Linked DNA regions of Homo sapiens: region 2 is linked to region 1. The links come from fine-mapping of genetic effects on gene expression. A gene starts in region 1. The other region holds a variant in brackets. All regions are shown on one strand. Distances are from middle to middle.

Region 1 (5,362 bases):
GAAAAGAGAATGGGTTGAGCTAAGCCCTGGGATTTTTCTTTTCTTTTCTTTTCTTTGGGGGGGTGGGGAAGGAGTCTCACTCTGTCACCCAGGCTGGAGTGCAGTGGCGCGATCTTGGCTCACTGCAACCTCCACCTCCCAGGTTCAAGTGATTCTCCTGCCTCAGCCTCCCGAGTAGCTGGGATTACAGGCGTGCGCCACCACACACAGCTGATTTTTGTATTTTTAGTAGAGATAGGGTTTTGCCATGTTGGCCAGGCTGGTCTCGAACCCTGACCTCAGGTGATCCACCTGCCTCGGCCTCCCAAGATGCTGGGATTACAGGCATGAGTCACCGCGCCTGGCCCATTAATTCATTTAATTTTTATTTAAAGATATATTTTGGGCAGCCGGGCACAGTGGCTCATGCCTGTAACCCCAGCGCTTTGGGAGGCCGAGGCAGGTGGATCACGAGGTCAGGAGATCGAGACCATCCTGCCTAGCACAGTGAAACCCTGTCTCTACTAAAAATACAAAAAATTAGCTGGGTGTGGTGGCGAGTGCCTGTAGTCCCAGCTACTCGGGAGGCTGAGGCAGGAGAATGGCATGAACCCGGGAGGCAGAGCTTGCAGTGAGCCGAGATCGCACCACTGTACTCCAGCCTGGGCGACAGAGCGCGACCCCGCCTCAACAGAAATATATATATATAAAATATATTTTTTTTATTTATTTTTTTTTTTTTTTCTTTTGTTCTTTTGAGGCGGGGTGGCGCTCTGTCGCCCAGGCTGGTCTCAAACTCCTGTGCTCAAGCCAATCCTCCTGCCTCGGTCTCCCTAAATGCTGGGGTTACAGGGTGAGCCATGGCACCTGGCCTGAGGTATATATTTTTTAAAGGGAGAGGAGATCCAGGAATGCCTCTTTGAGGAAGTGATATTTGAGGAAAGACCTGGAAGGAGGTGAGGGATGTGGGAAAGGGTGCTGGAGGCAAAAGCAACAACCCACACGAAAGCCCTGAGGAAGGGTGTGCGGGGCTAAGCAGGCACAGTCACGTGTGTCTTTGAGGGACTCTGTCCTGGCATGTTATGGGAACAGTGAAAAGGCCCGTGTGGCTGGAGCAGAGTGAAGAGAAGAAGGAGAGGAAGGTGGGGAGCAGACGAGGCAGGTTATGCAGGGCCTACCGGGCTGCAGGAAGGGGACTTGGGCTTTGACCCTGGGCTCCCACCCCGGAGAAGGTGGGAGCCATGGAGGGTGCTGGGCAGAGGAGGGGTAGATCCTGGCTGGGATGTTTATGATCACTTTTTAATTTTTTCTCTCCACACACTGGGCTGTGGCTGCCCTTTGGGAAGGGGAGGGGCACCCAGAGCTCTCCCAGCCACCCTTGGGAAGCACTGGCTGGTAGAAGAGGTTGGGGGACACCCCCCCTTCTGTTCCCCCACTGTTTGGCAAACACAGTGTCGGCTCCAAGGAGACAGACGGCCTGGGAATCATCAGATCCTGTGGCTGTACCCTCCCTCCTCCCAGCCCAGTGCCCAGAGCCACCCATGGGGTCTGCCCTCTCACCCCCAATAACACAGGGCTAGGAACCCTGTCTCAGGGGCAGGTAGGAGGGGGACACAGCCCAGGGTGGGCGTTACGGCCATTCCTCTGCCCACCCACCCACAGACAGCCCAGCACATAGGCTGGGCTCAGCACGAAGGTCCTGGGTCTGGGTTTGAATCCCGTCCTCACCACTTCCTGGAACAGGAGGGTCTGGGTTTGAATCCCATCCTCACCACTTCTGGAACAGGACGCCTCCTCCAGGGAGCCTCCCTGGGTTGGCCCAAGCCCCCCAGGCTGGGTTTCCACTCCTAGGGTGCCCCCAGCTTGGCTGGTGCTCCATCTTGGTCTGCGTTTTGGCCCAAGTCCCTTCCGGAGAGTGATGGGCTCCCCTCCACACTGAGGACACCCCCTGCTCCTTGCCGAGACCCCGAGACCCCGCTTCTGCCTGGGTAACGCGAAGGCAGCATTTGTTCAGTGCATGACCTCATCTCACAGAGGCTCACAACCACTCTCTGTGTTGCTCCATTGAGCCAAACGTGTATTAAGCGCCAAATGTATGCCAGGCACTGTTCTGTGGGCGGAAGAGGGTGCCCTGTGGGAACCTGCAGGGAAGGTGTTCCAGGCAGAGGGCACAGCCCGTGCAGAGGCCCTAAGGCAGGACCGTGCCAGGTGCGCTGGAGGCATAGCGAGGAGGCCTGTGTGGCTGGGATGAAGCAAGCGAAGGAGGAAGCTGGGGGAGATGAGAGCAGAGAAGAAGCTGGATGTTACGGGACGTGGTGCGGAGTACGAGAGAGAAACCTGAAGCAAAAAGATGGTAACTGGCCAAGGCATCCTGGTGCAGCAGAGATTTGAACTACACCCACCTCGTGGATGGAACTGGAGGCTCAGGGGCCCGGGAGGGGAGCCCATCTGGCCTGTGAGCCACTCAGCCTGATGCAAGCTGTGGGCAGGAAACAGGGGAAAGGTGCTGGGCCTGGGCCCATGCTGGGCTGGGCAGGTAGCCATGTGACCGTCCAGGCCACCTCCCCCGGGCCCATTGGCCGCCTGCCGCTGCTGGCTGGGCCTGCGCCTGCCCCGGACCCTATAAGGCCAGGGAGCTGAGGGTAGAGCCAGCTGCCAGCCGGGCCGGTCCGTCCTCCAGGGGACCCCGCGCAGTCCAGGTGAGCGGGGCCGCGTCTGCTTCGGTGACACCAGGGTGAGGCCAGGCCTGCAGGTGGGTGTCGGGCTGCTCAGGCTTTCAGTGGGGAGTGGGTGTGGGATGGGAGGCTAGGGAACCCCCATTCACGCACCTTCTCTGCCCCCTTCCAGCTTCTCACGTTCTCACTATGTCTGCTCCAGACGAAGGGAGACGGGATCCCCCCAAACCGAAGGGCAAGGTAAAGAGGGGAAATGGGGCAGATTCTTGCTGGGGCCTGGAGATGCCCCAGAGCCGGGGAAGGTGACCTCCACAGTCCTGGGGTCTCGAATCTGGAGAGGTGCTTCCCTGGTGGGCTGGTGGGGGCGGTCTGGGAGCCATGATGCCAATCCCTTCCTTTCTGACCCAAGCTGGAGGCGGGGGACCCACGCAGACCTCGACACCTTCCCCAGCAAGTGACCTTGGGCCGGCCTCAGCTCCGCCCCTCTCTGAGCCTCAGTTTCCCCATCTGTGCAGTGGGGATCCTGGAAGGAAAAGGTCTTTGGAGATCGGGTAGACGATCTTTTCCTCTGTGCATGGGAGGCAGGCTGAGTCTGCCCATTGCCCAGGTGTGGAAATTGAGGCTGAGTGGCTGAAACACTTTCCTGAGGTCACCCAGGAGCAAGGGGCCGGGGCGGCATTGGGCTGATCAATCGATGCTTCCTCTGACCCGTTCCTGCCGAGGCTTGGCCTGCTCATCCTGCACACCCCCCGCCCCCATGCAGACCCTGGGCAGCTTCTTTGGGTCCCTGCCTGGCTTCAGCTCTGCCCGGAACCTGGTGGCCAACGCACATAGCTCGGCGAGAGCCCGGCCGGCCGCTGACCCCACAGGAGCGCCTGCTGCCGAGGCTGCCCAACCACAGGCTCAGGGTGAGTGGCTGGCCCAGCTGGGGGCGTGGGGGGACTCTACACATGGACCTGGGAGAAGGAGCTCCCCGGGCAGGGACTTCCAGCCATTTGGGGAGTCCTCCATATTTGTCTGTGTGCTCTCATCAGACACTAGGACATCTTGTGGTGGATGGGGAAACTGAGGCATAAATATGGGGGGTGAGTGGCCGAAGGTGGCTTTCAACCCAGCCTGTCTCCCTGCAATGCCCCCCCACTCAGTCCCTCGGCCGTTCCCCCACCCTGCACTCCGTTTCTGATGCACCATGGCCCAGGCTGGGTGCTCTGCCCATCTGAGCTCATCAGAGTGAGATCCAGACTCCCAGGGAGGAGCAACAGCTCCCCTGGGGTCACACAGCCCAGGGGCTCCCCAGCCTCCTGTGGCTCAGCTTGGGCGATCAGGGACGGTGACAGGGAACCCAGGGTTGGGGCAGCCGCCTGAGCTGGGCCTCCCTCTGGGCCCAGAGCCCCAGGCAGCTGACTTCTGCTCCACATGCCTTGGCCTGGCAATAGGCAGCAGGCAGCTGCGGTGGGGGCGGGGCGGGCTGGGCAAGGGGCTGTTCCCCCATGCCAGGCTATATGAACCCCGGGACTCAGGGTGGGTGTCCACCCAGCAGAGGAAGTTCCACAGAGCCCTACTTCAGGGAACAGCGGCCCTGGGCTTGGGGGGAGCCCCCAGCGGGGTTGGGGGGTGACCAGGTCTGGCTGGTAGCCGTGGATGTCACCTCCTGCTGTCCCTGGCGGGGTAGCTGAAACATTCCTGACCTTTTAGGCTGTGCCTGGCTATTGTGCAATGGGCAGCCGGGTAGATGGTTCTAACTGCATCCCTCACTCTCCCTGACCGGCCCCTGTCCCCACAGTGGCTGCCCACCCAGAGCAGACGGCCCCATGGACGGAGAAGGAGCTGCAACCTTCGGAAAAGGTGAGAGGATGTGCAGGGCAGGGTCTGATGTGGCAGGAGCCCTGGGGGTGCCCCCTCCTGCGACATTTCAGTTCCTGCTATCTGGGGGGCTGCTCCCTCCTGGGACATTTCAGTTCCTGCTATCTGGGGGGCTGCTGTGGGCCTGAGGGAAGGCAGACAGCCTGGGGATCCCAGGCGGAGCTTCCCCTCTGAGCCTCTATTTCCACATCTGTGAAATGGGTGCAGTGCTACCCCACTCTAATCACGTAAGGTTCCAGTCTACACAGGGCTGTGCCTGGCAAGATGAGACCAAAGCGACAGCAGCGTAAGCACTTTATTTCTTCTACTTTTATTTTTTGAGATGCAGTTTTGCTGTTTCACCCAGGCTGGAGTGCAGTGGCACAATCTCAGTTCACTGCAACCTCTGCCTCCCAGGTTCAAGCGATTCTCCTGCCTCAACCTCCTGAGTAGCTGGGACTACAAGTGCTCACCGCCATGCCCAGCTAATTTTTGTATTTTTAGTAGATACGGGGTTTCACCATGTTGGTTTCACCAGGCTGGTCTCCAACTCCTGACCTCAAGTGATCCACCCACCTCAGCCTCCCAAAGTGCTGGGATTACAGGCATTAGCCACTGCGCCTGGCAAGAGGATCTGTTTTAATCAGCATTTTCCAGATGAGGATATTAGCTCAGAGAGGGCATGTGGCTTGCCTAAGGCCACACAGCGAGTGTCGGGAGCAGGAGAGGGTAAAAAGCTGGGACTTGAACCTGGGTCTCTCCAACTACAGGGCCCAAGGTGCCCACCTGAGCCAAAGCTGGGAGATGTGTTCTGAGAATACAATTTCCGGGCTTCTCAACCTCAGTACTGTGGATATTTGGGGTTG
Region 2 (5,362 bases), 24 kb before region 1:
AGCACTTTGGGAGGCAGAGGTGGGCGGATCACAAGGTCAGGAGTTCAGACCAGCCTGGCCAACGTGGTGAAACCCCATCCTACTAAAAATACAAAAATTAGCCGGGCGTGGTGGTGGGCACCTGTGGTCCCAGCTACTCGGGAGGCTGAGGCAGGAGAATCACTTGAACATGGGAGGCGGAGGTTGCAGTGAATCGAGATCGCCCCACTGCACTCCAGCCTGGCACACAAAGGAAGACTCCTTCTCAAAAAATAAATAAATAAAAAAAAATAAAAATAATAAAAAAGAGGACAGAGGGCCCCGAGGAGGTAGGAGGGATGCCCAGGGCCACCCCGCCGGCCCCACTAACCCCCCTGTGCTCCCCGGCCAGGACTCCTGCGGGCCAGCCTCTCCGAGGACCGCGCGGGGCTGGTGTCGGTGAACCTGCTGGTAACGTCGTCGGTGGCGGCCTTCGTGGTGGGAGCCGTGGTGTCCGGCTTCAGCGTGGGCTGGTTCGTGGGCCTCCGTGAGCGGCGGGAGCTGGCCCGGCGCAAGGACAAGGAGGCCATCCTGGCGCACGGGGCGGGCGAGGCGGTGCTGAGCGTCAGCCGCCTGGGCGAGCGCAGGGCGCAGGGTCCCGGGGGCCGGGGCGGAGGCGGTGGCGGTGGCGCCGGGGTTCCCCCGGAGGCCCTGCTGGCGCCCCTGATGCAGAACGGCTGGGCCAAGGCCACGCTGCTGCAGGGCGGGCCCCACGACCTGGACTCGGGGCTGCTGCCCACGCCCGAGCAGACGCCGCTGCCGCAGAAGCGCCTGCCCACTCCGCACCCGCACCCCCACGCCCTGGGCCCCCGCGCCTGGGACCACGGCCACCCCCTGCTCCCGGCCTCCGCTTCATCCTCCCTCCTGCTGCTGGCGCCCGCCCGGGCCCCCGAGCAGCCCCCCGCGCCTGGGGAGCCGACCCCCGACGGCCGCCTCTATGCTGCCCGGCCCGGCCGCGCCTCCCACGGCGACTTCCCGCTCACCCCCCACGCCAGCCCGGACCGCCGGCGGGTGGTGTCCGCGCCCACGGGCCCCTTGGACCCAGCCTCAGCCGCCGATGGCCTCCCGCGGCCCTGGAGCCCGCCCCCGACGGGCAGCCTGAGGAGGCCACTGGGCCCCCACGCCCCTCCGGCCGCCACCCTGCGCCGCACCCACACGTTCAACAGCGGCGAGGCCCGGCCTGGGGACCGCCACCGCGGCTGCCACGCCCGGCCGGGCACAGACTTGGCCCACCTCCTCCCCTATGGGGGGGCGGACAGGACTGCGCCCCCCGTGCCCTAGGCCGGGGGCCCCCCGATGCCTTGGCAGTGCCAGCCACGGGAACCAGGAGCGAGAGACGGTGCCAGAACGCCGGGGCCCGGGGCAACTCCGAGTGGGTGCTCAAGTCCCCCCCGCGACCCACCCGCGGAGTGGGGGGCCCCCTCCGCCACAAGGAAGCACAACCAGCTCGCCCTCCCCCTACCCGGGGCCGCAGGACGCTGAGACGGTTTGGGGGTGGGTGGGCGGGAGGACTTTGCTATGGATTTGAGGTTGACCTTATGCGCGTAGGTTTTGGTTTTTTTTGCAGTTTTGGTTTCTTTTGCGGTTTTCTAACCAATTGCACAACTCCGTTCTCGGGGTGGCGGCAGGCAGGGGAGGCTTGGACGCCGGTGGGGAATGGGGGGCCACAGCTGCAGACCTAAGCCCTCCCCCACCCCTGGAAAGGTCCCTCCCCAACCCAGGCCCCTGGCGTGTGTGGGTGTGCGTGCGTGTGCGTGCCGTGTTCGTGTGCAAGGGGCCGGGGAGGTGGGCGTGTGTGTGCGTGCCAGCGAAGGCTGCTGTGGGCGTGTGTGTCAAGTGGGCCACGCGTGCAGGGTGTGTGTCCACGAGCGACGATCGTGGTGGCCCCAGCGGCCTGGGCGTTGGCTGAGCCGACGCTGGGGCTTCCAGAAGGCCCGGGGGTCTCCGAGGTGCCGGTTAGGAGTTTGAACCCCCCCCACTCTGCAGAGGGAAGCGGGGACAATGCCGGGGTTTCAGGCAGGAGACACGAGGAGGGCCTGCCCGGAAGTCACATCGGCAGCAGCTGTCTAAAGGGCTTGGGGGCCTGGGGGGCGGCGAAGGTGGGTGGGGCCCCTCTGTAAATACGGCCCCAGGGTGGTGAGAGAGTCCCATGCCACCCGTCCCCTTGTGACCTCCCCCCTCTGACCTCCAGCTGACCATGCATGCCACGTGGCTGGCTGGGTCCTCTGCCCTCTCTGGAGTTTGCCTCCCCCAGCCCCCTCCCCATCAATAAAACTCTGTTTACAACCACCGGCCCCCATGACTCTGGCTCTGCTCTGCCTCCTGGGGGTGGCACGGGTGGGGGCACCCTCAAAAGTCAAGGCCAGGCCGGGCGCGGTGGCTCACGCCTGTAATCCCGGCACTTTGGGAGGCCGAGGTGTGCAGATCACTTGAGGTCAAGAGTTCGAGACTAGCCTGGCCAACATGGCAAAACCCCGTCTCTACTAAAAATACAAAAAATCAGCCAGGCTTGGTGGCGGGTTCCTGTAATTCCAGCTACTCGGCCGACTGAGGCAGAAGAATAGCTTGAATCTGAGAGTCAGAGGTTGCAGTGAGCTGAGATCACACCACTGCACTACAGCCTGGGTGACAGAGCGAGACGCTGTCTCAAAAAAAAAAAAAAAAAAAAGGCTGGGTCAAAACAAATCTGGGGAGCTGAGTGTGGAAACATGGAGACTTCGGGGTCCCCATCTTCATCTGCATAGGAGCCAGTTTCTTTTTCTTTTTCTTTTTCTTTTTTTGAGACAGAGTCTCACTTTGTCACCCAGGCTGGAGTATAGTGGCGCGATCTCGGCTCACTGCAACCTATGCCTCCTGGGTGCAAGCAATTCTCCTGTCTCAGCCTCTCCAGTAGCTGGGACTACAGGCACCCGCCACCACGCCCCGCTAATTTTTGTATTTTTAGTACAGACGGGGTTTCATCATATTGGTCAGGCTGGTCTCGAACTCCTGAACTCAGGTGATCCGCTTGCCTCGGCCTCCCAAAATGCTGGGATTACAGGCGTGAGCCACTGCGCCTGGCCAGCCTTATGAATTTTGTTTTAAGTGGGACAAGAAGCCATCAGAGAGTTTTAAGCAGGGATGTGATCTCATTTCATTTTAATGGATCGTTTTGTTACTGTGTCACTACATTTCACAAGCCTTCCT[TCCTC/C]TCAGTCCATGTTGATTAAGACCAACTAACGGCTGGGCTCCGGAGACTGGGCAGGGCACAAGACTGACGGAGTGCAGTGGCTCACGTCTATAACCCCAGCACTTTGAGAGACTGAGAAGATTCCTTGAGCCCAGGAGTTTGAGACCAGCCTAGGTAACATACAAAAGAATTTTTTAAATTAGCCAGGCATGGTAGCATGTGCCTGTATTCCCAGCTACTCGGGAGGCTGAGGCAGGAGAATCGTTTGAACCCAGGAGGTGGAGCTTGCAGTGAGCCGAAATTGCATCACTGCACTCCAGCATGGGTGGCAGAGGGAGACTCCATCTCAAAAAAAATTAGCCAGGCATGGTGGCACGTGCCCGTAGTCCCAGCTACTTGGGAGGCCTTGGACCCATGGTCAAAGCTACAGTTAGCTATGATTGCACCACACTGCTCCAAGCTGGGTAACAGAGCAAAATGCTGTCTCAAAAAAAAAAAAAAATGACGGGGCATGGTGGCTCACACCTGTAATTTTAGCAGTTTAGGAGGCCGAGGCCAGTGGATCACATGAGCTCAGGAGTTCAAGACCAGCCTGGGCCACATGGCAAAATCCTGTCTCTATTAAAAATATAAAAATTAACCAGGCACGCTGGTGCATGCCTGTAGTCCCAGCTACTCGGGAGGCTGAGGTGGGAGAATGGCGTGAACCCGGGAGGCGGAGCTTGCAGTGAGTGGAGATCACGCCACTGCACTCCAGCCTAGGCAACAGTGCAAGACTCTGTCTCAAAAAAAAAAAGAAAAAAAAAATAGTCATAGCTGCAGATAAAGGTGACACCATCATACCTAAATATTTAGAACTCAACAAGAATGCAAGCACTCTGCAGCCAAGTCCATGAGATGCAGCCAAAGCTGTTCTCAAAGGGAAATTTGTAGCCTCCAAACGCATTTAATAGGAAATGAGGAAGAATGGAAACAATAGCATGGATGTCAGATTCAGATGAAGAGAAAAAAGGGCAGAAGGAGCCCTTGGAGATTTGAGTTCAGCTTCATAGATGGGGAAACTGAGGCCAAGAAAAGTTAAGTCACTTGCCAAAGGTCACAAAGCAAAGGTGTTCATGACAGAGCTGGAATTCAGAACCAGGTTTGGTTCCTCCCAAGCCACTGTCTAAGGACCGTAGAGACGTTTGGCATTACTCACTATTGGACTGTATTTTTAAAATGACTTCTTTTAAAAAAAGCAATATCAACATACCATGAAATCAAGACGAGTTTTTTTGTTCTTTTCAGTGAGCTTCTGGGTTGCTCAAGTTTATGGTAAATCCCTCCTCTTGCTCAGAGAGCTGTCCCTGTCTCCAGGAATAGTGCCTTGCAAACCTTGACCCTTGAACTCCGGGTTGGGGGAAGTGAGGATGCAACTAGAGAGACTCTTGGATGCCCCCCAAAAATCAGGAAGCAAGGAAAGAAAAACCTGTGTTCTAGAAGCAGGGTCAAAAAGGGGTTGAACAGGAAACAATTTCCAGGAAGCAATTTTGTAATCCTGACCCCTCCCCTTCCCCTGCCTGGCTTAGGCTCAGCCCCTATCAGGAACTGGACGGGGGTGGGGACTTCCCCAGGGTTGGTTCCCCTGCCCCCAGTCCAGGCAGGTATAAGGCCACCTCCGCAGGCCAGGACAACCCAGAAGCAAAAGAGCAGAGCTACCATGTCCTCTTGGAGCAGACAGCGACCAAAAAGGTAGGTCCCCACACTACCTGTCCTAGGCAGGTTTGAACGCCAGACCATGCGGAGATACAGGACATTCCAGCTAACCCATAGAAGTCACAGGGAGCAGATACAGGCCTGGTGGCTGGCACAGATCAACCTTATCTGTGACAGAAAGACTGGCGCGTGCACACACACACACACCCCTACAGAAGCCCAGGTGGGCATGGGCAGCAGGGAGCCGGGGGAGGCTTCTTGTTAGAGGCCTGGGGCCACAGTGACCAAGGCTGTCGAGATCATGTCTGATGGCTGCCGGGCCAGGGAAGCCCTGGAGGAGGAGGGGAAGCCCCAGGCTTCCAAGGGTTGTGGTGCTAAGTGTAAACCACCGCTTCCCAAGGCCAAATGCCCACCCTCAGACCTGGCCAAAGCAGGACACACTTTTCATGTTCAGAGGCTGCAGTGAGCTGTGATCATGCC

What was found. PIP is the estimated chance that this variant, and not a neighbour inherited with it, causes the effect.
Region 2: its variant is fine-mapped to the expression of PLIN4 in whole blood (TOPMed, PIP above 0.99).

The regions. Positions count from the first base shown.
Region 1 is chr19:4,515,754-4,521,115 of GRCh38, reverse strand. It overlaps PLIN4 (perilipin 4), which reads left to right and starts at 2,630. Exons shown (of 8, transcript NM_001367868.2): 1 at 2,630-2,731; 2 at 2,827-2,894; 3 at 3,418-3,562; 4 at 4,438-4,499. The coding sequence starts at 2,844.
Region 2 is chr19:4,539,538-4,544,899 of GRCh38, reverse strand. It overlaps LRG1 (leucine rich alpha-2-glycoprotein 1), which reads left to right and starts at 4,864. Exons shown (of 2, transcript NM_052972.3): 1 at 4,864-4,918. The coding sequence starts at 4,887. SEMA6B (semaphorin 6B) reads left to right here. Exons shown (of 17, transcript NM_032108.4): 17 at 371-2,307. The coding sequence ends at 1,299. The variant TCCTC/C (reference allele first, on the strand shown) is at 3,205.